Linked DNA regions of Homo sapiens. The protein of the gene in region 2 interacts with the protein of the main gene of each other region in a pairwise test. Each region holds a gene or a part of one and is shown on either strand. Other genes may lie near its edges. The genes, in order: ADORA1, TSHR, MOG, SLC9D1, ASPHD1 and TMEM119.

Region 1 (4,196 bases), on a different chromosome or scaffold from region 2:
GGCCTGCATGTCTGGGTGGCAGGGGGAGTAGGCAGGACGTCAGGTGCTGTTGGGCGTGTTGACAAAGTCAGCAGGGGAAGTGCAAGGGGACGAGGAGGAAGGAGAGTTTACACTTCCTAATTTCTCCAACTAGCTTCTAGGGAAGGAATGTAATTTTGCTGTCTGAGGCACTGATTCCTTGCTCCCCCTAAAGGCAGAAATGGAAGTTATTTTTCCCCACAGAGGGCTTCCCCCTCCTCCTCAGAAGACTCAACTGCCCTTCCTCCCTGCCTCCCAGCTACCCAGGTTCCGGGTCCCACATCATTCCTCACTGTGATTCAGTGCAGCCCCCAATGGGAGCAACGTGCCCACCCTCCTCTGGGCAGAACCCTTTTCCTTGCATTCTGAGATCCAGTGAGGGGGGCAGTACCCCCAGAGGCCAGGTTGGGTTGTGGCTAGCTAACATTGGGGTCCCCAGCCTGACTCTCTTTGCCTTCCTAGAACCCTTGCCCAATACCCACAAACAAGGATTTCTCAGGTTGGGATCTCTGCGAGGCATCCATCCATGTCCAGGGTCTGGTCATTAGTTAATATCAGTGGACTGCCTAAACCGAAACTGGCAGAAGGTGGCCAGGGGAGGGGTCTGGACCCAGTGGAGAGAGTCAGGAGCCTGGGATTCTTATTTTGGTCCTGTTAGGATTTGCCCTGTGACCCTCCGGAAGTCCCTTGCTTCCCTGAGCCTGCTTCTTTATCTGTAACATGAGGGGATTGGACTGGATGCCTTATGGCTTAGCGCTGTGCTATGAAGAGGAAGAAGGAGGAAGGAAAAGGAGCGCAGAGCGGGTTACACTGCCAGGAGATCCTGGGAAGCTAGGTCACTTCCCTGAGCCTCAGCATCCTTATCTGCAAAATAGAAATTGCTAATAGACTAAAAGGCAATTCTGAAAGATGGATGAGAAAGGAATATAATGACTCAGGGTAGAGCCTGCAAAACAATATGGGATGAGAAGATGCAGGGACTGGTTTCATGGAGAGAGCAGGGTTTTAGGATTGGGGGAGGGTGCCAGGGCTACCGACTGCTTTGGGAGATCCCAGAGGGGGCATTCTGAAGTCCTGCAGAAGAGATGCTGTGCCGTGAGGGGTGAGGGGTCGCTGGAGGCCAGACCAGGGCTCCCAGGAGTCCTGCATTGAGAAGGGAGAGAGTGGACACAGGAAGGATGCGCCTCTGTCCAGTCCTGAGGCTGGGCGCACACACCAGGCCCTTCGAAAAGCTCACATTTTTTCCAGCTTTTCTCACCCAGTATCACTTCCTTTGTTAAGAGGAGGGGGTGGGGGAGGAGACGGAGGATGAGGAGGGAGGGGCTGGCGGGTGCCGCCGCCGCCCCCGCCCCCTCCCGGTGTGCGGAGCCCGATTGTCACTCAGCTCCTGCGCCGGGGGCGACAGAGCCGCAGGCGCCCGAGTCGAGTCCCAGCCAGCTACCATCCCTCTGGAGCTTACCGGCCGGCCTTGGCTTCCCCAGGAATCCCTGGAGCTAGCGGCTGCTGAAGGCGTCGAGGTGTGGGGGCACTTGGACAGAACAGTCAGGCAGCCGGGAGCTCTGCCAGCTTTGGTGACCTTGGGTAAGTCTGAGTCTCGGTTCACCCCTGGGGCTCCCCAATGGGGGTGCAGGAGAGGGTTGAAAGAAGAGACCGGAATGCCCCCTTGGGGCAGGCCATGGGCAAGGTTCCCCGACAGAGCTGGAACGGGACCAGAGGACTGCTAAGATCCAGGCACCAGACGGGTCTCAAGTGGGTGGGCGCAGGGCAGGTGCGGGCACGCTGGGGAATAGGGAGAAACGCCCCAGCCTTGTCCTGGGCTCCGTCCCCAGACCCACGTCTGCCACCCCAGTCCCAGGTGCGAAACAGGGGCGCTACCTCTTTAAAAGCGTCCGGGGCTGAGTCTCTGCCGTACCATGTGATTGCTTGAAAGGCCGGGCTGGGAGCGCTGCGGCGGGAGCCGGAGGACTATGAGCTGCCGCGCGTTGTCCAGAGCCCAGCCCAGCCCTACCGCGCGCGGCCCGGAGCTCTGTTCCCTGGAACTTTGGGCACTGCCTCTGGGACCCCTGCCGGCCAGCAGGCAGGATGGTGAGCTCCCTGCATCCTGTTCTGTGCACAGGGGTGGGCAGAGCCAGTCATGGGAGACCCCTCTGTGCGTGTGTCTGTGTGTGCGCGCGCGCTGGGAGCTGCCTCACACCTGATAAAAAAGCCAGTGGAGGAGTGAGCGCTGCTATTTTAAGTTGCTGAATGGAACCTCTGGGAATGATAAAGGGAAGGGACAAAGATTAGGCAGAGAAGGGTCCGGGTGCCCCTCCAGCCTGGGTAGGAGCTGCATGTGACAAGTGGGACACATCACAGGGTACCTGGAGTTCCAGGGCAGCCTGAGCTCCCTGCCCCTCCCAGACGGGTCTCCCCATCCCAGGCTTCCCTGACCACACAGGTGCTTGCCTCGTGCCCCTTGGTGCCCGTCTGCTGATGTGCCCAGCCTGTGCCCGCCATGCCGCCCTCCATCTCAGCTTTCCAGGCCGCCTACATCGGCATCGAGGTGCTCATCGCCCTGGTCTCTGTGCCCGGGAACGTGCTGGTGATCTGGGCGGTGAAGGTGAACCAGGCGCTGCGGGATGCCACCTTCTGCTTCATCGTGTCGCTGGCGGTGGCTGATGTGGCCGTGGGTGCCCTGGTCATCCCCCTCGCCATCCTCATCAACATTGGGCCACAGACCTACTTCCACACCTGCCTCATGGTTGCCTGTCCGGTCCTCATCCTCACCCAGAGCTCCATCCTGGCCCTGCTGGCAATTGCTGTGGACCGCTACCTCCGGGTCAAGATCCCTCTCCGGTGAGTCCACAGCGCCGAAGGTACTCGCAGCACCACATGATGGCTGGCTTGAGGGCCATCTAGAAAGGAAAAAAGGTAGAGCATAAGACCCCAAGTAAGCCAGATGTTCTTTGGGCCATCGTGCTCCAGTCCTCACTCTGCCTTTCCGTGCTCCGCTCTGCAGGGCCAGAGAAACAGGAGGGGGATGGGTGGCTGGAGGACTGTACTGTGAACTTACCAGTGCCCATGACCTCAGAGCTGAAGCTCTTGCAGCCAGGGAACCTGAGGCTGCCTGTCAGGCCTGGGGTGGAGGTGGGAGATTTGGAAGAGCCACTAAGATGGGGTCACAGTGAGTGCTGGGTAGGAATGAGCTGAGCTCTGCCAGTCCCAGGGAAGAGGAAGAGGAAGAGGCAGAGAAGAGAGTTAGGGTGGGGTGGGAACATACTGAGGGTGGCACAACAGGGGCAGGAGTGCTGCTTCTCCAGCCAGACCACGGCAGGCTTCCCAAAGGCACGCTTTGGCTCTCTCATTCACCAGGTATCTCTGTGCTAGCCAGCTGTTCCTTCCAGGGCTTTCCAGCTGAACCCAACAGTCTGATTACCTTTGCCTCACTCCCACTTATGGGACCTCTGTTACAGACAGGAGGAAGGAAAAATGCTGGTGCCTACTTCTCATATTGCTGTTCTGTTGCAAAACCACCTCTTTGCTGGTCACAGTAGAGGTGCTTGTGCTGCTCCCAGGCAGCACTGGGATGGGTGGCCTGCTGGTGCCGTCCTCAGTGTGGGTGTCCAGCCCATGTTGGAGCTCCCTGCCAGGCCACAATCTCATCACCAGGCAGTGCCTTGGGCCACCAAGTGCCAGCGAGTGCCTGGGCATATTGCCAGGGACTGGCCCTGCTGGGACGCTCTTGTGAGGCATGCTTGCCCCCTCTTTGAATTCTTGCCCCCAGTAGATTCCTTTTCTCCTGGGGAGCTCTGGCCATCTCCAGCACCTGCCACCCCCGGCATAGCTTCTCTGGGATGTAGGGCCTCTGACCTCACTTGGCCCCTTGCCCGGGCAGGCCTAGGGACCCATGTTTCTCCCTTTGTGTTACATTTGTGCACATTTAACTTTTCAAAGCCTTTCTTACATGCATGATTTTTTCCTGTTATCATCACGCCGCTGTAAGGGAGGTGGAGCAGGAGCTTTTAAAGGGGGAAACTAAGACTCAGAGGGTCTCCTTGAAGCTCACTCAGAAGTGTGATCTAATTATCTGCCTTCCTTCCTGATTCCCCATGCCCAGTGGCTTGATGCCAGTCTCTCTGCCCTGTCTACCTCCCTCCACCCTCCAGGTTTTCCAGGGAAGGTGGGGTGAATAAGGGAAC
Region 2 (3,500 bases):
GTCCAGGTTCATTTTAATGGTGTATAGCCTGGGTCGGGGGCAAGGTATCGGGTGAAATGATCCACATTTTTAAAACCTATTCAAAAGTCAGCACATAATGCTGGAACCAGAGACCTGCTCCAAGAAACAGGAGGGAGAAAATGCTATCATGTATATGTGGTCCTTAAATGTAGTATTTCAGAACAAAACAAAACAAAATTCTGAGAGCCAGTTGGTCAATTTTGTTTGAAAATGGGTATCACAACAATATTATTAGAGTGGCTGTTACACAGGAAAAAAAACCCACAAAGAGTAAAATACACTTCCATGGGGAGTGGAGGGAAAACAGAAGGGACAACAGTTTCAACCTCCCACTCCAGCACTCAAATGTCCAGCACTCACTGCTTTGCTTTGAAAACACCTTATGAGCTAACCATAAGCTCCATGAATCCAGGGACCACAACATTTTTTTTCTCTGTTGAATCTTTACTGCCTAGTACAGAGTAGGCGCTCAGTACAAATGTGTTCAGTGGATGTGTCTGTATGACCTCAGGCCCCCTGGATACCAGGTGGAAGAGTCCTTTTTCCTACTTGCATGCATTATAAAGATTAGAAAACAAAGAGTATGAAGAAGAAAATTGTTAAAAAAAACTTAATCCCAAACCCCAAAATAAGCACTATTAACATTTCAGTTCATCTTCATCCAGACCTTCAAAACAAACTTATGTTATCATAGATATTTTATGAGATAAGCCCTTAAGGATGAATAGAGGGTATCTTGAACAAGAATGGGGAGATAGAAAAGAAATTTAGCTGGATGGAATAGCATGATAAAGACACAAATGTAGGGAACCACGCAGCTTCTTTGGGGAACTAAAAATAGTTGCTTTTTTTTTTTTTTTTTTGAGATAGAGTCTTGCTCTGTTGCCCCAGGCTGGAGTGCAGTGGTGTGATCTTGGCTCACTGCAACCGCCACTTCCTGCATTCAAGCGATTCTCCTGCCTCAGCCTCCCGAGTAGCTGGGATTACAGGTGTGCACCACCATGCCCAGCTAATTTTTGTATTTTTAGTAGAGATGGGGTTTCACCATGTTGGCCAGGCTGGTGTCGAACTCCTGACCTCAGGTGATCCACCCGCCTCAGCCTCCCAAAGTGCTGGGACTACAGGCATGAGCCACTGTGCCTGGCCAATAGTTGTATATTGAAGAGGTGGGTGTGAGAGATGCCAGGGGAATGGAAGACACTGATGGGATATGAAGATGAAAGGATGTCTGGAAAGCCATGAAAGCTTATGGGACAAGACAATCACTCTTCTTATGGACTCTGAGTTTCAAATAATACAATAACCCTTTGATGTGATGATCCCCCACTATATGCTCTGTGGGGAACATACAGGTTTCTAAGACATTGTCCTTGCCTGTAATCTAGTTGAGGAGATGTGTATGAAATTGAAAAGTGCCTCTCCTACAGAAGAATAATGGAAAGTGACGAAGGAGAGACATATACAGTGTTTGGGGGTTCAGGTAATTAGAGAAGACATCAGAAAGAAGACCCACAGCATGGTTTTAAGGGACTTGTTTGAGATTTTTGAAGAATAGAAAGATCTTGATCCAAGTATATGGACCCCACTTGACTCTTGGACCTTTTTCCCTCCTACTGTTCTTCATGAGCACCTATTGCAATTGAACTAGTTCGTTTACTGTATTTCAAATATACCTTATGGAATCTCACCTCTCTCCTTTGTTATCTGGAATGTCCCTCCCATTTGCTGATTTTGAGACCTCTGGCTCCTGCTGCCTCTTCAAATCCTATGCCTTCTTCTCTAGAAGGAGTCAAGTCTGAATTTGCCTCAGAAGGAGTATCAATGGATATAGTTTTTCTACCAGAAGACCTTCTCTAGAGCTTTACTGAGTAGTGTCTAGATCTCACTCTATGCTATGCCAAATTCTCAAAAAAAAAAAAATTCTAATTACATTCAAGTAGCTGCAACAAATGTTAAAACAACTAAATCTGGGAGGCATCAGGAGCCTGAGAATTCTTGTATTCATGGTGTTTTATGCATGTCTTTTAATCTTAACATTTTTCTGTAGATGATATAAACTACAGAAGGTAAAGACTTTGTCTTTGATTGGTTTCCTTCCTTTTCTGGACACTGTCTTTTTTTGAGACAGAGTCGCCCTCTGTCACCCAGGCTGGAGTGCAGTGGCATGATCTCGGCTCACTGCAACCTCCACCTCCCAGGTTCAAGTGATTCTCATGCCTCAGCCTCCCAAGTAGCTGGGATTACAGGCGCATGCCAACACATGCAGCTAATTTTTGTATTTTTAGTAGAGACAGGGTTTCGCCATGTTAGGCTAGTCTTGAATTCCTGGACTCAAGTGATCCACCTGCCTTGGCCTCCCAAAGTGTTAGGATTATAGGCGTGAGCCCCTGTGCCCGGCTCTCTGGACATATTTTTTTAAATGGTACTGTTATAATGGTACTCTCAGGTCACTGCTGTAGGAAAGATATTCTTGGCAAAATAACAGCATAATATCATGTAGAGCTTGAAAGAGGAAGCTGGCTTAAAGTCATCATATCTTCCTGTCCCATCTTCTTCTTAGCCCTTCACTAACAAACACATAATTTTTTCCAATTAAACGAGAAAATCACACACACACACACACGAAAACTGAATTTATATTTCTAGTAAACCCACTTGGTTAAAACAATCTCCAGAGCATTCTAAGCCGAGCAGATGTATTGACACCAGTGGACTGGATTAAATTATTATGCCTTGAGGGAATATCATCTCATCCAACCATCAGAACTTGCCCATAGTTACTCAGATATTTAGGGAAGGTGTTGGGAGTTTGACTACAGGTTGTCTTCAGAACCCATGCTTTCAGCTATTACATTATTCTCCTTCCTATGTGTTGATTTTTTTACCTAAATTCTATGCTTTTTTTTCTCTTTTTTTCATTAATTTAGTGGCATTTTCAACACTGGACTTAAAATGTTCCCTGACCTGACCAAAGTTTATTCCACTGATATATTCTTTATACTGTAAGTATGCACACATGCCATGTTTGACAATATTTTGTTTGTCACTGACAAGAACTAGAATACAGTCATGAGGGTAGGTTGAAGATAAGTAAAGCAATTGTTTCAAGGAGTAAGCAATGATCAGGTGTGACTACACTGGCATGAAGTAAGGCAAGGACTGAGAAATAACCACTGGCTTTAGCAATGTGGTTTGTTGGTGACTCTGCCAAGAACAGTTCCAGTGGAGTGCTGGTTGGAGTGGGCTCAAGAGAGACTTGGGTAGACAGAATTAGAAAGAGTTACCATAATTAACTCTTTTGAGAGGTTTTACTATTAAAAGGAGCAGAAAATAGCTCAGTAATTGCAAGATATTGAGTCAGGAGAAAAGATTTTGTTTGTGTGTTTTTGTTTTTAAATGGAAGAAATTATGCAATGTTTCTTTGCCAATGGGAATGGTTGAATAGAAGGAATATTTGATGATAACTATGATACCTTATT
Region 3 (4,129 bases), on a different chromosome or scaffold from region 2:
TTACCTACTCAAAGGCATTGATTTTGATCCCAATTTCCTTGCTACTCTGAATAATGATGCAACAGACATCCCTAAGCATGAGTTTCTGTTTATTGATGTGTACATTTTTATGGAAATCATTCCCAGGACTGAGATGTTTGGGTTGAGGGATCTCATCTCAGTTGAGAGAATAATTGTTCTTGGCCACCCAACAGTTAATACCTAATATTATATGGCACTACTCACCTTCTACTTTCAATTCCATTGCTGCCTCCTCTTGGTAAGAATGATCTCGGAAGAAGCAGGTGAAACCTCCTTCATCTGAGAACCTTACATTCCGGATCCTGAGAGTCACCTTTCCCTCACCAATAGCATCTTTCAGCAGCTCTGTCCGGCCCCGATATTCAGGTGCCTGGTCTCCATCTTGGTCCTTGCCATTTCTGTAGAGATGAACCACCCTAGAGAAGGGGGGGCGGTACCACCCCACCTCCATGCCTGTAGCGTTCTTCCCAGGAGATATGCGACATGGCAATTCCACTTCATCCCCGACCAGAGCCCGGATAGGGTGTCTTGGTCCTATCACTCTGAACTGCCCTGTCCAAGACACCAAAAGGAAGAGATTTAAGGTCAGAGGGAACCTTGGCAAGCAAGCCTGTCATGAGAAGGGCTGCTTCAAAACAGGGAAGGAAGAAGACACTCGACTTTTAAATGACATTCTAGAGCCAGGGAGGATTGCAATTGTTCTTCTTCTTCTTCTTCCTTTTTATTTATTCATTTATTTTTTGAGACAGTCTTACTCTCTGTCGCCCAGGCTGGAGTGCAGTGGTGCAATCTTGGCTCACTGCAACCTCCGCCTCCCTGCAACCTCCGCCTCCCAGGTTCAAGTGATTCTCCTGCCTCAGCCTCCCGAGTAGCTGGCATTACAGGCACCTACCGCCGCATCCAGCTAATTTTTGTATTTTTAGTAAAGATGAGGTTTCACACTGTTGGCCAGGCTGGTCTCGAACTCCTGACCTCAGGTGATCCGCCTGCCTTGGCCCCAAAGCGCTGGGATTATGGGCATAAACCACCACACCCGGCCTCAAGTTTCCTTCTTGAGAACAACAACGACAAAAAAGACTCTGGTTATAGAGATACTGTGAATGTCCTGGACAGAACATTTTAGCAATCATCTCCTCTCAGCATCTGCCCATCTTTTTGCCAGCTGTAGCCATCTCTGACTCTTCAGCCCAGCCTTTAGGTTCCCTCTTGGAATGTGGCACAGCATCTTGAGGTTGAATCCTCCTATGGGCCTCCCTGTTAGGACTTGGCCAAATTGCTGCCTATTCTACCCTTAGAGGTTTTGCTTTTGTCACTCCATCTACTTTAACTGTCTCTCCATCACTTCTCACTATTCAGTCCTTGTTCATACCTTGTTTCCCAAATTCTCTTCTGAGATCTTCCACCCTGGGGATGGCTCTATTTCCCTCTTCCTTCCCCTGTATCTTCCACCTCACTGTGGCTCCCGGACCCTGACCCGAAAAAGTTCCTTGTTTTTTTCTATGTGGATGTGTTTCTCAAGTCAGATTCTGAGCTACTAAGAAATAAGGCTGCTTTCTCCCCTAGACCTGGAGAGTGGATGCACTGTGCCTCTGTCAGTCAGGTGGCTCCCTGAGGATGGGAAACTTTCTGTTTATTTCTCCTCTGCACGTGACAGCCGGGTTCCTTTATAAAAACCTACTGGTGCCTGATTATGCAGAGCAAAGTCTCAAACATGACAAGATATTATAATTCCACAAACATTTATTGAGATTTACTATGGACAGGCACTGCTAAGCATGTTACATATCTCATTTCATGTAATCCTGATGAGAACTCCAAGAGGTTGTTATTATTTTATCTCAATTTGAGAGGTGAAAAGACAAAGCTGGAAAGACAAGTAAGAAGTAGTTCAAGGAAAGCCTTGAGTTAGTCACATTAAGGAGTCTGGGTCAGACGCAATGGCTCATGCCTGTAATCTCAGCACTTTGGGAGGCTGAGGAGGGCAGACCACTTGAGGTCAGGGGTTCCAGACCAGCCTGGCCAACATGGTGAAACCCCATCTCTACTAAAAATAAAAAAATTAGGCCTAGTGCAGTGGCTCACGCCCATAATCCCAGTACTTTGGGAAGCTGAGGCGGGCGGATCAGCAGGTCAAGAGATCGAGACCATCCTGGCCAACATGTGAAACCCCGTCTGTACTAAAATACAAAAAAAAAAAAAAAAAAAAAGAAAAGAAAAAATTTAGCTGGGTGTGGTGGCAGGCGCCTGTAGTCTCCGCTACTTGGGAGGCCAAGTCAGGAGAATCGCTTGAACCAGGGAGGCTGAGGTTGCAGTGAGCCGAGATCATGCCACTGCACTCCAGCCTGAGCAACAGAGGGAGACTCTGTCTCAAAAAAAAAAAAGAGTCTGGACTCCATCTTGAAGGCTGTAAGAACCACCCACGGAAGGTTTCTGAGGAAGGGAGGCATGTCAGTAGGTCTATGTTTTAGAAAGATAATATAGCAACTTGAGGATGTTTGAAGGAGCTAAGCCCCAGGAAACTAGCCTTTCTGTTTTCAGGGTCTCCCCAGGGCAGGAAAAAAAACATGTCTTACCTGCATAGCTGGAAGACACTTGGAGGAGGAGGAGGAGGAGGAAGGAGCAGAGGCAGCTGGGCAGAGAGGGTCTTGATAAGCTTGCCATCTCTACTGTTCCTGGGGACAGAGAGCCCCCGCAGCAAGGTCAGGCCAAGTGGAGGCCCTTGGGGTGCATGTCCCCTTACTGCTGAAAAGCCCAAGGGAAGATCTTGGAGGGCAGTGCTGCCTGGGCCCTGCCTCCACTCCGGTAATTGCTGCAGCTGTGCCCGCAGAAACAGCCCCACGTCACCCTTGCCAGGCACTCACACAAAAGGGCTACAGACTGAGGGGATGACCAGGGTTTGCCTTCCCCACCCCCCCAGAGCAATGGAGCAGAGGCTGCCTGGTACAGGGCTTTCCTCCCCCACTCCCTCCTGGAGATCCAACCTTTGAAGGGTCTTCTAGGGGCTAATCAGTGGGGCAGGATCACTTACAGGACCTTAGGAAGAGGCTTGTTCATGGAATATGTAAGCTTCCTCCAATCCACCCCAGCCCTACTGACTAGTCAAAAGAGAGAAATTATTATTGGTTCTTAAAAAAAGAAAGAAAACTTAGATTTCTTTTTCCTGTTTCTATTATCTCACAACTGTCATCACCAGACCATTCTTCTTAATGTCTAACCTCCCTTTCTTCTACCGCGAATCCAAACTCTGCCCTGTATGTTTGTATATGTGATAGGTCACTTGGGATTTGTTAGTTTCTTGTTCCCAAAGAATGTTTTTAGGGAAGTCATGAGATGAATGTCAGGTGTGCTCAGAGAGGCAAGGTTGGAGGAAGGGAGACCAGCAAGGGCAGCAACTAACTATGTCAGTCAACACAGGCAGAAGGGACAGAGCCAGCATACAGGACACGCTCTCCAGCCTTCACATCACTTGCCAGTTTCCTCAGTGTCACAGGGGAGAGTGAGATCTGGAATGGAAAATGACCTTTCTCTCACCTCTTGGCTCAGCTGAGAATTGCAAGTGTGAGACCAGCATTGGTAGCAGGTTCCAAAAATAGACTTCCCAATCTTAAGGCAAGTATGCCTCACCAAATAAGGAAAAAAGGCTCAATTTAGAGCCGTGCTGTCCAATGCAGCAGTCACTCCCTGCATGTGGCCACTTAAAATTAATTACAATTAAATAAAATTAAAAATTTGGTTCATTGATTACACTAGCCATGTTTCAAATGCTCAATAGCACTACAGTTAGTGGTTATCTCATCAGACAACACAAATACAGAACATTTCCATCGTCACAAAAAATTATATTGGGCAACACAAAAATTTATATTGGGCAGCAAGGGGTAGAAACACAACTGAGACATACATTTCTGCTTTTGTCCGAGATGGGCGTAAGGAGCTAGAAGGACATTAAGGTCAGCTGAGTTTGGGAACTGCTTATTCTTTCACCCTTCAAGGCAGCCAGCGTTTGGACACAAGCAATGTTTGGCTACTCTGGTGCTGTGTGGTTGAAAGTCAAGATTGCAGGGGTCAATCCCATGGAAAAAGTGGCCGCTGTGGATCTCTGGCTTTT
Region 4 (4,120 bases), on a different chromosome or scaffold from region 2:
GGGTCTGTGCATTCTGTTTCTTCTGCCTGGAGCCGCACACGGCTGGCTGCCCCGGAACCTCACTTTTTCTCTGGCTAATTTCCAGAGAAATTCTCCACAGTTCAACTCACACCCTCAGCATCTGACACCACTCCCACAGCCGCATCCTACAAGTTCCTGGAACCCGTGCCTTAGCCTTTGTCCCAACTGTGGTCAAACAATTGTGCATCTGGTGCCTGTCTCCCCTGCTGGGGCATCAACTCCCTCAACGCCAAGATCATGCCTGGCCCAGCACCAGTCACACCCAGCAGCACCTTGCTGGCCTCTGAACCGATGTGGACTGAATAAATCCCATCCATCACCATTTCCACCACATTTCAAAGTAACTGATGTGCACCTCCAGCAGCCTCCCTCCTGCGCTGCGGAACTCTACCAGCTCCACAGATGCACACCTACAGCCACGCTACAGCTCCCGGCTAGAGCCCGCGCTAGGGCCCCGCTGTGCCTCTCCCTCCCCTCCCGGCAGCAGGGCCTCCCCCGCGAATCTGAGCTTCTCGCGGATTCCTTCCTTGCGCTGTTTTGGTCAACAGCCTCAGCATCTGCACAGACGCCCGCAGGAGCAGCCGAGCCCTCGCCCGCCTCGACTGCCCGTTTCGAAGCCGCCCTGGGAAGCCCCCGGCCTGGGTTCCCGCTCGGCCCCGGCCCCTGCCCCAAGGCCCCTACAGTTCCTCCCGGCCCCCGCCCTCCGCTCACTCCCGGTCGTCCCTCGCGGCTCCGGGTCAAACCCGCGCTCCCCGCGGTCCCGCGCCTCCGACGCCACCGCTCCGGCTCGCGGGCCCGCGGCGCGTTCCTCCCTCGGATCCACGCGGAACGCCCCGCGCAGCTCGCTGGGCTCGGCCTCCCACATCCAGCGCGCCGCCTGCGCCGACCTTGGGGCCCGACCCCGACCCCGACCCCGACGGGCAGAGGCGACGCCGGGCCACCTACCATCTCCCCCGCGCCGCCCGCTTCTGGCCGGCCCCGGCCTTCTGCGCAGGCGCGGCGGCGGCTCCGCCCTCGTCCTCGGACGGCCGCGGCCCTCGGCTCCGGGGCAGTGCCGGGAGCCGGCCGCGGGGACTCCCACTCCCGGCATGCTCAGCGCCGCCCGGGGGCCCACGGGAGCTCGCGCCCCACAGCCCCTGCGCGTCCAGCCCTCTGCGAGGGCCTTGGCTCGCCCCTGCGGGGTCCAACGCCAGCCTGCGGCTGCCAGGCCCCACGCCGGCCAGGAAGTGCTCGCCGCCCGCGGCCGACGGGACCCGCCCACGCCCCGCCTCTTAAAGGGGGCAGTGACTGCGGCTGGGCGGGAGTCCGGGTCGGCTTGGCTGAGCGGGGGCGGTGCTGGGCAGGGCGGCGGCCGCTCCCTCCCGGACTCCCGGCCTCCCGGCCTCCCTGGTCCCGCCTGGGAAGGGATGCAAGGAAGCCCTCCGGCGCTGCGCTCCGAGGCGGGAGACAGCGTCCCCCTCCGCCCCTCGGGTCCTGGCGCCTCAGAGCCCGGCCCAGGCCGCGGAACGGTGATGCTCGGGCCGGACGGGCGGGCGCGGATCCCTGCGTCCCGGTGAGCACCAGGCCCGTCCATCCGGGGCTCTTTCCCGGGGTCCCCTTCCTTCCCTCCCTCCCTGGGGCTCCCCTCCCCTCTCTCCCTCCCCGGGGCTCACCTTCCCTTCTTCCCTTCCCAAGGGTCCCCTTCCTTCCTTCCCTCCCTCCCTGGGGCTCCCCTCTCTCCCTCCCCGGGGCTCCCATTCCCTTCTTCCCTTCCCAGGGGTCCCCTTCCTTCCTTCCCTCCCTCCCTGGGGCTCCCCTCCTCTCTCTCCCTCCCTGGGGCTCACCTCCCCTCTCTCTCTCCTCGGGGCTCCCCTTTTCTTGCAGGTATTGTCTCCCGGGGTCGGGTGGTCTGTGTGGCCTGGGGTCCCGCTCCTCCAGGCCTTGCCTAGGCGCTCTTCGCTGAGGCCCACGTTCTAACCTGGAATGGAACCTGCGTTCCCACCCTGGCCGCCCGGGTGGACTCGGGGCCTCCAGGGCCGGCCGCAGAGATGCAGCCCTGTCCCTGGCCCCCCTCCTGTGACTCCTAACGGCTCCTCACGGTGTCCATGACCCAGGGTGTGGACGCCTGCGCGGGGGAAGCAAGACCGCTGCGTATCGGGTCCCTATTCACTGCCTGTTTTTCTGATTATTCTGTCTTCCAAATTTATCTTATTTACCGGCTTTTTCAAAAGGAGTGTCTTAATGATTGGATTACTTGTGAAATATTTGTAGTTTTTTTCTCCTACAGGCTTGACTTAAATATTCTAAAGCTTTTTTGTGGTTGTTGAGACAGAGTTTTGCTGTCGCCCAGGCTGGAGTGCAGTGGCTGGTCAAGGCTCAAGCGATTCTCCCGCCTCAGCCTCCCCAGGAGCTGGGGCCACAGGGAGCATCACGCCCGGCTAATTATTTCATTTTTAATAGAGACAGGGTCTTGCTGTGTTGCCCAGGATGATCTCCAACTCCTGACCTCAAGCAGTTCGCCCACCTCAGCCTCCCAGAGCGCTGGGAATACAGATAATTGTGTCGTAATACAGCAGTGGCATTAACCACCGCACCTGGTCTTAGGTAGAATTTGAAAACCTTTTTATTTTGAGATGGTTGTAGATCACATGAAGTTGTAAGGAGTAATACAGAGAAATCCTACAGAGTGCCTTTGCCCTGTTTTCTCCAATGGTAGCACCTTGCAAAACCATAGTATATGTGGGGAATTTTCTTTGATCAAATCCCCTGACCTGTTGAGATTGCACCAACTATACATGCACTAGTGAGTGTGAATCTACACCTGTGTGTCTTCTCAATAAAATTGAGATTTTTTTTCACTCAGCCTTGAGATACATCCGCATTGTTATGTGTATCAATTGCTCAAGATGCAGAAATTCTAAGAATTCATTATTTAAAAAGTAATCCCAGCACTTTGGGAGGCTGAGGTGGGTGGATCACCTGAGGTCAGGAGTTTGAGACCAGCCTGGCCAACATGGCAAAACACCGTCTCTACTAAAAATACAAAAATTAGCTGGGTGTGGTGGCGAGCGCCTGTAATTCCAGCTACTTGGGAGGCTGAGGCAGGAGAATTGCTTGAACCCGGGAGGCAAAGGTTGCAGTGAGCTGAGATCACAACACTGCACTCCAGCCTGGGTGACAAGAGCAAAACTCCGTCTCAAACAGCAACAACAACAAAAAAAACACATTACAGGAATCCAAAGTGTCTTTTTAATAACTAGAACAGCTAAAGATGTTTACTAATTTGCTCAAAAAACATGCTACAATTTAGTAGTCAGTAGGATTTTGGAGGCAAGTTTGAAGATAAAATGAAATGAGTTTGAATAAAGGTGATTTGTATTTTAAGGGTCCATAAATAATTTCAGTTTCATGTTATGAGTATGTTTCAGTGGGAAATTTTAGTATAACTACAACTAAAATCCTCAAAGGTTTCTCATAAAAATTATAGCTCCCTTAGAGGGACAACTAATTTTAGGAACCTGATTGAGGAAGGAACCAGAAATGAACATAGAGGTGTCATTCACACATGAGCTGTGTTGAAACTTATTTTTCTGAAGCATAAAATCCATCAAAGAATCACTTTTTGGGATCTTTTGGGGAAACTGGGAAGTGTAAGCAAAGCATCTCAGATTTCTGTCTTGGTTCTGGAAAATACTAAAAGTTCACTTGTGAAGTAGCTGTTGATTTATTTAGCTCCGTTGGACCAACCGAGAGAAGCTTAGCAGTTGAGTGAGTCATTAAAATAACAGCTCAGCTATATGGCTAGGCATGACTAAGTGATTGCCTCATTGTTTGTTTTTAAGGTGGTAAATGTGTACTTAAAGTTGTACACGTGTACTTAAAGTTGTATTGAAACTAACATAAAATTGAGTGATTGGAACAGCACATTATCATTTATCCTATCTTGTTAGGAAGTTACCTGTTCTAGGTAAGTGAATTCTCTGTGGAGTGTGCTTCTCCTTTTGGGAGTCAGTCTCCAAGAATGTTTTGAATTGAACACTTTCTAACCAGAATATAGTCTTTTCTTGGTGACTTTTGCTTGTAATTCTGATCAGTACTGTTGTCTAACACAGTACTGTCT
Region 5 (4,165 bases), on a different chromosome or scaffold from region 2:
TTTTTTTTTTCCTCGTAGGAGTCAGCAAAGAAAGACAATTTCTCTGCCCCTTGGGATGGAGGGGCAGAATTGGGCTAGGGGTCGCCTGGAGCCCACCCCCCTTTGCTCAGTCTCCTCTGTCCTCTTCTCGCGGCTCTGTGGTGGAGGGGGCGCGGCTCCGGCTGCAGGGGGTGGGGCCGAGAGGGCCGAAGGGGCCGGGTGGCCTGGGTTACCCTCCTGCTCAGGCGCCTGGGTCCACTGGGCTGTCTGGACCCCAAGCTAGGGGACTGGGGAGGAGAAAGACAGCTTCTGGGGGTTTAGGGTGGGGTCGAGGATCGAGGGGGTCTCCACTGGGCTCTAGCGGGGCTTGTCGGGGAGGGGAAGGGGTGGGTTGGGGAACTGGGAGAGCCGAAGCTCGGGCACTGGAGCTGCGGGAGGGAGAAGCTGAGAAAGGTATCGAGCCCACGTCAGATCCTGGGGACGGGCGGAGGGAGGGGCCTGGGATTTATTTGACGGGGAGGGAGGAGGAGGAAGTGCAGATGGAGGAGGGAGGGATCATACGAGCCAGGGCCGTAATCCTCACTCCCGCGGCCCCTAGGGGAGGCAAAGGAAACTCTCTGGTCCCAGCAGTAATTAGCCCCCTCCGCCTGCCATTCCAGCACATCTGGAATCTGAATCTCCTCTTCCCAGGGTGCCGAGGGGCTGCATAGCTTGGTTCGCGCCTGCTAGGCCCCCAATTATGCCCCCTGTTCACATTCAGACCTCCCAAGGGGCTTCCCTTCCCCTTTTACAGTAGCTCGGGTGGAATGGGCTCTCCCTCCTCCAGGGGAATAGAGAGCTTCCACGATTGTGACAAGTCTCGTGGGTGACGGGCCGGGGTTTGGGGAGGAGAGACAGACCCCTCCTCTTCCATAAACCCTGACCCCGGCCAGCTAACAGGCGGCCTCGGCTCTGATTTTCCCTCCGGAGCGCCCTTTTCAGCACCAGCGGCGCGCGGACAGCTCCCCTCGCCCCGCCGGGGCGGGCCCGGCCCGACGCCGCCCGCGATTGGCTGAGGCCGCTTTCGGTGTTTGCCAGGCTCGCGGGCTCCCGGGCTGCCTAGGGCCAGCGGGAGTCACAGGCCGACCGACCGACGGACCAGCCGCCCGACGGACTGGCCTCAGCATCCTTGCCCGCAGTCCCGGGCGCCTGCCCAGCCGTCAGTCCGCGCTCGCCCCGCCCCTCAGGCCCCGCCCCTCAGGCCCCGCCCGATACGACCCGCCCCTTCTTTCGCATTGCGGGACGGCTGGAGGCTGGCACCGTGGCCCCTGCGCCCCACGTGGCGCCCTTTCCGGGCGGGGGGGGTGGGGAGGCACCTCCAGCGACAACTCTCCCCCCTCCCCCGGCACCCGGCTGATTTGCTGTGCCACTGGGAGGGTTCGGGGGTGGCTGAGCTGAGAGGGCTCCGGGAAGGAGTGACGTCAGGGTGAGTGGGAGCCCAGGAAGGAGCGAGTAGGAGAGAGGGAGCGAGAGCCAGGCAGGACCGCAGGGTCGGGGCTAGTGAGGAGCGAGGGCAAGGAGAGAGCAGTGAGGCCGGAGAGAAAGAAGCTGCCGCGGAGGAAGACAGGCTGCGGGTTCCCGGGACTGCAGGTCCAGGCAGGGTAGGAACCGCTGCCCAGGGGAGCTAGGAGGAAGCGGGGAGAGAGAGCGAGCGAAAAGCGGGGGTGGGGAGGAAAGGGGGAGATTGAGGTGGGAGAGAGAAGCAGAGCGAGAGAGAGGAGGCTGCTGGAAGGAGAAAGAAGAGGGTGAGGAGGCGACAGAGGGAGAGGAGGAAGAAGAGGTAGAAGGAGAGAGAAAGGGGAGAGAAAGGAGAGAGGAGGGTTGGAGGTGCATGAAGGAGGGGAGAGGGAGCTTCAGCGTGGAGAGAGGACCGCGGAAGGAGAGAGAGACAGCCCAGAGTGGAATGTGGAAGGGAAACAGTCCAGCGGGGAGCCAGGGGGCAGCCATGGAAGGGACAGGTGGGGAGCTGGGGGGACAGGGGAACTGGGGTCCGGAGGACGCCCCAGGCCTCTTGGCCAGGGCCTCCCTGATCATGCTCCCGTGGCCACTACCCCTGGCCTCCTCGGCCCTCACCTTGCTCTTCGGGGCCCTCACTTCCCTGTTCCTCTGGTACTGCTACCGCCTGGGCTCCCAAGACATGCAGGCCCTAGGGGCTGGGAGCCGAGCTGGGGGTGTTCGTGGTGGGCCTGTGGGATGCTCGGAGGCCGGCGGGCCAAGCCCAGGGGGTCCTGGGGATCCCGGGGAAGGACCTAGGACGGAAGGCCTAGTGAGCCGGCGGCTTCGGGCCTACGCAAGGCGCTACTCCTGGGCTGGGATGGGTAGAGTGAGGCGGGCAGCTCAGGGTGGCCCAGGCCCTGGGAGAGGGCCAGGGGTCCTAGGTATTCAGCGCCCAGGCCTGCTTTTCCTACCAGACCTGCCTTCAGCCCCCTTTGTGCCGCGGGACGCCCAGCGGCACGACGTGGAGCTCCTGGAGAGCAGCTTCCCTGCCATTTTGCGGGACTTCGGGGCTGTGAGCTGGGACTTCTCAGGGACTACCCCTCCGCCTCGGGGCTGGTCCCCACCTCTGGCCCCCGGGTGCTACCAGCTCCTGCTGTACCAAGCAGGCCGGTGCCAACCCAGCAACTGCCGCCGGTGCCCGGGGGCCTATCGGGCACTGAGGGGGCTTCGAAGCTTTATGAGTGCCAACACCTTCGGCAATGCCGGCTTTTCCGTTCTCCTGCCTGGGGCCCGGCTCGAGGGCCGCTGTGGGCCCACCAATGCCCGGGTCAGATGCCATCTGGGTAAGTAGCTGCCGCCTACTGACAACCTCCTTGCCTCGATGATTTCCCCCCCAGACCCTTCTCTCCGCCAGAGCCGTCTGCTGTCTGGTTCTCATTGTGCCTCTCTTCTTCCATGGCTCCCTGTTGCCACCCACAGCAGCATTTCCTCAGCCTCGGTTATCTGCACACCACCTTCATAAGCTTTGCCGTGGTCATTCCCATCTGTACTGCGTTTCTTCACCTTGGCTCTCCCCCCGACCTTTTGTTCTACGTATTTAAAAGAAATATTTATAGCACTATCAGTATTACTTGCCCTAAATAGTACTCATAAAAAGCCTGGACAACACAGTGAGACCTTGTCTCTACAAATAATAAAACAATTAGCCGGGCGCGGTGGCCCATGCCTATGGTCCCAGCTACTGGAGAGGGTGAGGTGGGAGGTTCACTGGAGCTCAGCAGTTTGAGGCTGCAGTGAGCTGAGATTGTGCTACTGCACTCCAGCCTGGGTGACAAGAAAGTACTCATAAACACAAGCTGAAATTTAAAAAAGAAAGCTTTCAACAGTCTAGAACATTCTAGTTAAGTGCTCTAGTCTCTCTGATCCTGAAGCCTACACTTTTTTCTTTTTTGAGGAGTCTCGCTCTGTCGCCCAGGCGAGAGTGCAGTGGCACGATCTTGGCTCACTGCAAGCTCCACCTCCCGGGTTCATACCATTCTCCTGCCTCAGCCTCCCGAGTATCTGGGACTACAGGCACCTGCCACTACACCTGGCTAATTTTTTTTTATTTTGTATTTTTAGTGAAGACAGGGTTTCACCATGTTAGCCAGGATGGTCTCCATCTCCTGACCTCGTGATCAATCCGCCTCGGCCTCCCAAAGTGCTGGGATTACAGGCATGAGCCACCGTGCCTAGCCCTACACCTTCTTTTTTAAAAGGGTTGGTGGGGTGTCAAAGTTACAGTAGCACCAAACTGAGATTTTTTCTTTTTCTTTTTTTTTTTTTTTTGAGACAGGGTCTCACTCTGTCACCCAGGCTGGAGTGCAGTGGCACAAACATGGCTCACTACAGCCTTAACCTCCTGAGATCAAAGGATCCTCTCACCTCAGCCTCCTGAGTAGCTGGGACCACAGGTGCCCACCACCATGCTTGGCTGATTTTTTAAAAATTTACGTAGGCCAGGCGCGGTGGCTCACGCCTGTAATCCCAGCACTTTGGGAGGCTGAGGCAGGCGGATCACCTGAGGCTGGGAGTTCGAGACCAGCTGACCAACATGGAGAAATCCTGTCTCTACTAAAATTACAGAAAATTAGCTGGGTGTGGTGTCGCATGCCTGTAATCCCAGCTACTCGGGAGGCCGAGGCAGGAGAATCACTTGAACTCGGGAGGC
Region 6 (2,867 bases), on a different chromosome or scaffold from region 2:
TGTCTCTGAACCTCTGTTTCCTCATCTGTAAAATGGGGATAATGAAGCTGCCTCAGGGCTCCTGTAGGATTAAAGGCATGAAAAGGGCTTAGATGAGTACCCGCGAGGAAAGCACAGGTGACCAGCTCATTTAAAATGAGCCCCTGAGAAGCTTTGTCTCTTTTTTAAAAAATTGAAATATTTTAATATATTTCATAGAGATGGAGGTTTCCTTATGTTGCCCAGGCTGGTCTTGAACTCCTGGGCTCAAGCGATCCTCCCAAGTAGCTGGGACTACAGGCATACACCACCAGGCCTGGCTACTTTTTTATTTTTTTGTAGAGGTGGGGTCTTACTATGTTGCTCAAACTCCTGCCCTCAATCAATCCTCCGGCCTCGGCCTCCCAAAGTGCTGGGATTACAAGTGTGAGCCACCACACCTGGCCAATTTTGCCTCTTTTTATGTCCTGGAATTATTTTTTTATTTTTTCCATCTAAGCCAGTTTGTTCACATTTAATTTCTTTTTTTTCTTTTCTTTCTTTCTTTTTTTTTTTGACAGGTTCTTGCTCTGTCACCCAGGCTGGAGTGCAGTGCCAACTCCGCTCACTGCAGCCTCAACTTCCCGGGCTCAGGCGATTCTCCCACCTCGGTCTCCTCGGTACCTGGGACCACAAGTGTGCGCCACTAGGCCTGGCTAATTTTTGGTGTTTTTAGTAGAGACAGAATTTTGCCGTGTTGACCAGGCTGGTCTTGAACTCCTGAGCTCAGGTGATCCTCCCACCTTGGCCTCCCAAAGTGCTGGGATTACAGGCATGAGCCACCGCACCCAGCTGATGCGATCCATTTCAATGAAAGCTGTGTCACAGAGAAGCCTCAGGTCACCTGGAACAAGCCCCTCAATGGCCCAACCTGGTTCCTACCTCACCTCCAGAATCCTCACGGTACCTGTGGGGAAGGTAGTGTCCTCTGCTTCACCAAGCAGGCCCTGAGGCCCAGGTGCTGGAGATGTGACCGCAGCCGAGGCCTTGGGAGCCTGGCTTCCTCCTCCAGCCCGGAACTTGCTGTGTGGCCCTGGGCCTGCCCTTTGCCTTCTCCGGGCCTCTGTCTCTCCACCTCAGTTCCCTGAGGCCTCAGGACAGGAGATCCTAAGGCTTTTCTGTGTTGAAGCTTCTAGACCCAAGCCCGCTTCCGGGACCTGAGCCCTCTGCTGGGCCGGGCAGGGGTTCTCAGAGGACAGTGCAGTGAATTGTCCCTGGGTTTGAGCAGCTGGGAGCCCCCAGCTCACATTGGCTGGGAGAGACAGTGTTTTGAAACTCAGCTCCTCTGTCAACTCTGGCTATGAGGAATTAATTCATCAGCCGGGCTGTCTGGGCCAGGTGGGGTCTTGGGGTTCACCCGGGAGCAGCCTTCCATCAGGGCAGGGAGGCCCCCGGCTCATCTGGTTCCCATCTAGTGGGGGCGGGGCGCATCGGCAGCTCAGCTTTGTCTTGGGAACCAGGACTTCCCCACCCTGGGGCCCATCCTGGCTCCTGCTTGGAGCCTGGGGGTGAGGGCAGCCACAGGGGGCTGTCCATGCATGCCCCTGGCATCCATGACCCCTGCCTAGCTCAGAGACCTGGAGGCTTCAAACCCTACGAATCTTTTTTTTTTTTTCTTCTTGAGATAGGTTCTCGCTCTGTCACCTAGGCTGGAGTGTGCAGTGGCGCGATCTCGGCTCACTGCAACCTCCGCCTCCCAGGTTCAAGCGATTTTCCTGCCTCAGCCTCCTAAGTAGGTGGGATTACAGGGGCACGACACCATGCCTGCCTGATTTTTGTATTTTTAGTAGAGATGGGGTTTCACCATGATGGCCAGGCTGGTCTTGAGCTCCTGACCTCAAGTGATCTGCCCACCTCGGCCTCCCAAAGTGCTGGGATTACAGGCGTGAGCCACTGCGCCTGCCCTGCTAGGAATCTTTTGCAGAATAAGGTAGAGCTGGGCTGGCGGAAGGTTTGAGAAAGCCCCTGAACCACCAGGTTGTGGCCGCGCGGAGCCACTTTGGCCACCCAGTGCATGGGGGCCAGACCCTGAGGGGAACGGGACCACAGAGAGGCTGGGGACTGAAGGGAAGGGTCCCAGAGTTGTGGGTAGGGGGTGAGGTGTCACTCAGCAACCTCAGTCACTCAATCGGTTTCTCACTTACTCAGCCCTACTATCATTTCTCCCTCTCTGCTTGGATCCAGACCCAGCTCTTCCCTGGCAAGTCACCACGTCCCTCTCAGCCTCTGTTTTTTCATCTGCAAAATGGGCCTAATCATAGAACTTCCCACACTGGGCAGTGATCAGGATTCATTGAGAAGTTCCATGTAAGAAACTTAAAACAGTGGCTGACACATAAAGTCATGAAAGTGTAAATTATCATTATTAATTCAGCCACGTCAGTCAGGGTACATTTATTGAGCACTTACTGAATACCAGATATGGGGCCAAACCCTGAGGAGGCCGAGATGAATAAGATTCAGCCCCTGACCTCCGGGACCTCCAGAGAAGTGGGGGAGCACATCTGTACTCCACAGCTGAACCAGCGGGGCTCAGGCCCTGGGAATGGAAGGGACTTGCTAGAAGGTGTTTCATGCTCCCTGTTCCTCCTGGGGGCTGGTGAGCCTGTTTCTGAATCCTGACACTCTAGAGTTCCGCCATGACTTCTCTCCTCCCTCCTGTCTCACAGGTCCTGGGGGCACCATGGTTTCGGCGGCAGCCCCCAGCCTCCTCATCCTTCTGTTGCTGCTCCTGGGGTCTGTGCCTGCTACCGACGCCCGCTCTGTGCCCCTGAAGGCCACGTTCCTGGAGGATGTGGCGGGTAGTGGGGAGGCCGAGGGCTCGTCGGCCTCCTCCCCGAGCCTCCCGC

The links.
Region 1: the proteins of TSHR (region 2) and ADORA1 interact in a two-hybrid assay, tested with the Homo sapiens proteins (one large-scale study listed by BioGRID and IntAct).
Region 3: the proteins of TSHR (region 2) and MOG interact in a two-hybrid assay, tested with the Homo sapiens proteins (one large-scale study listed by BioGRID and IntAct).
Region 4: the proteins of TSHR (region 2) and SLC9D1 interact in a two-hybrid assay, tested with the Homo sapiens proteins (one large-scale study listed by BioGRID and IntAct).
Region 5: the proteins of TSHR (region 2) and ASPHD1 interact in a two-hybrid assay, tested with the Homo sapiens proteins (one large-scale study listed by BioGRID and IntAct).
Region 6: the proteins of TSHR (region 2) and TMEM119 interact in a two-hybrid assay, tested with the Homo sapiens proteins (one large-scale study listed by BioGRID and IntAct).

The regions. Positions count from the first base shown.
Region 1 is NC_000001.11:203,126,330-203,130,525, forward strand, and holds the start of ADORA1 (adenosine receptor A1), read left to right. Parts: upstream 1-1,396; 5' UTR 1,397-1,599; intron 1,600-1,948; 5' UTR 1,949-1,985; coding exon of another isoform or gene 1,986-2,103; intron 2,104-2,455; 5' UTR 2,456-2,512; coding exon 2,513-2,853; exon of another isoform or gene 2,854-2,928; intron 2,929-4,196. UniProt on the Homo sapiens protein: Receptor for adenosine. The activity of this receptor is mediated by G proteins which inhibit adenylyl cyclase.
Region 2 is NC_000014.9:81,088,121-81,091,620, forward strand, and holds part of TSHR (thyrotropin receptor isoform 1 precursor), read left to right. Parts: exon of another isoform or gene 1-2,948; coding exon 2,949-3,023; exon of another isoform or gene 3,024-3,500. UniProt on the Homo sapiens protein: Receptor for the thyroid-stimulating hormone (TSH) or thyrotropin. Also acts as a receptor for the heterodimeric glycoprotein hormone (GPHA2:GPHB5) or thyrostimulin. The activity of this receptor is mediated by G proteins which activate adenylate cyclase.
Region 3 is NC_000006.12:29,655,763-29,659,891, reverse strand, and holds the start of MOG (myelin-oligodendrocyte glycoprotein isoform alpha1 precursor), read right to left. Parts: upstream 2,801-4,129; 5' UTR 2,683-2,800; coding exon 2,595-2,682; intron 574-2,594; coding exon 226-573; intron 1-225.
Region 4 is NC_000013.11:113,489,701-113,493,820, forward strand, and holds the start of SLC9D1 (transmembrane and coiled-coil domain-containing protein 3 isoform 1 precursor), read left to right. Parts: upstream 1-1,320; 5' UTR 1,321-1,573; exon of another isoform or gene 1,574-4,120. Other genes in the region: DCUN1D2 (DCN1-like protein 2), read right to left, coding at 733-969. UniProt on the Homo sapiens protein: Probable Na(+)/H(+) antiporter.
Region 5 is NC_000016.10:29,899,123-29,903,287, forward strand, and holds the start of ASPHD1 (aspartate beta-hydroxylase domain-containing protein 1), read left to right. Parts: upstream 1-1,365; 5' UTR 1,366-1,849; coding exon 1,850-2,798; intron 2,799-4,165.
Region 6 is NC_000012.12:108,592,218-108,595,084, reverse strand, and holds part of TMEM119 (transmembrane protein 119 precursor), read left to right. Parts: intron 1-539; exon of another isoform or gene 540-748; intron 749-2,687; 5' UTR 2,688-2,701; coding exon 2,702-2,867. UniProt on the Homo sapiens protein: Plays an important role in bone formation and normal bone mineralization. Promotes the differentiation of myoblasts into osteoblasts.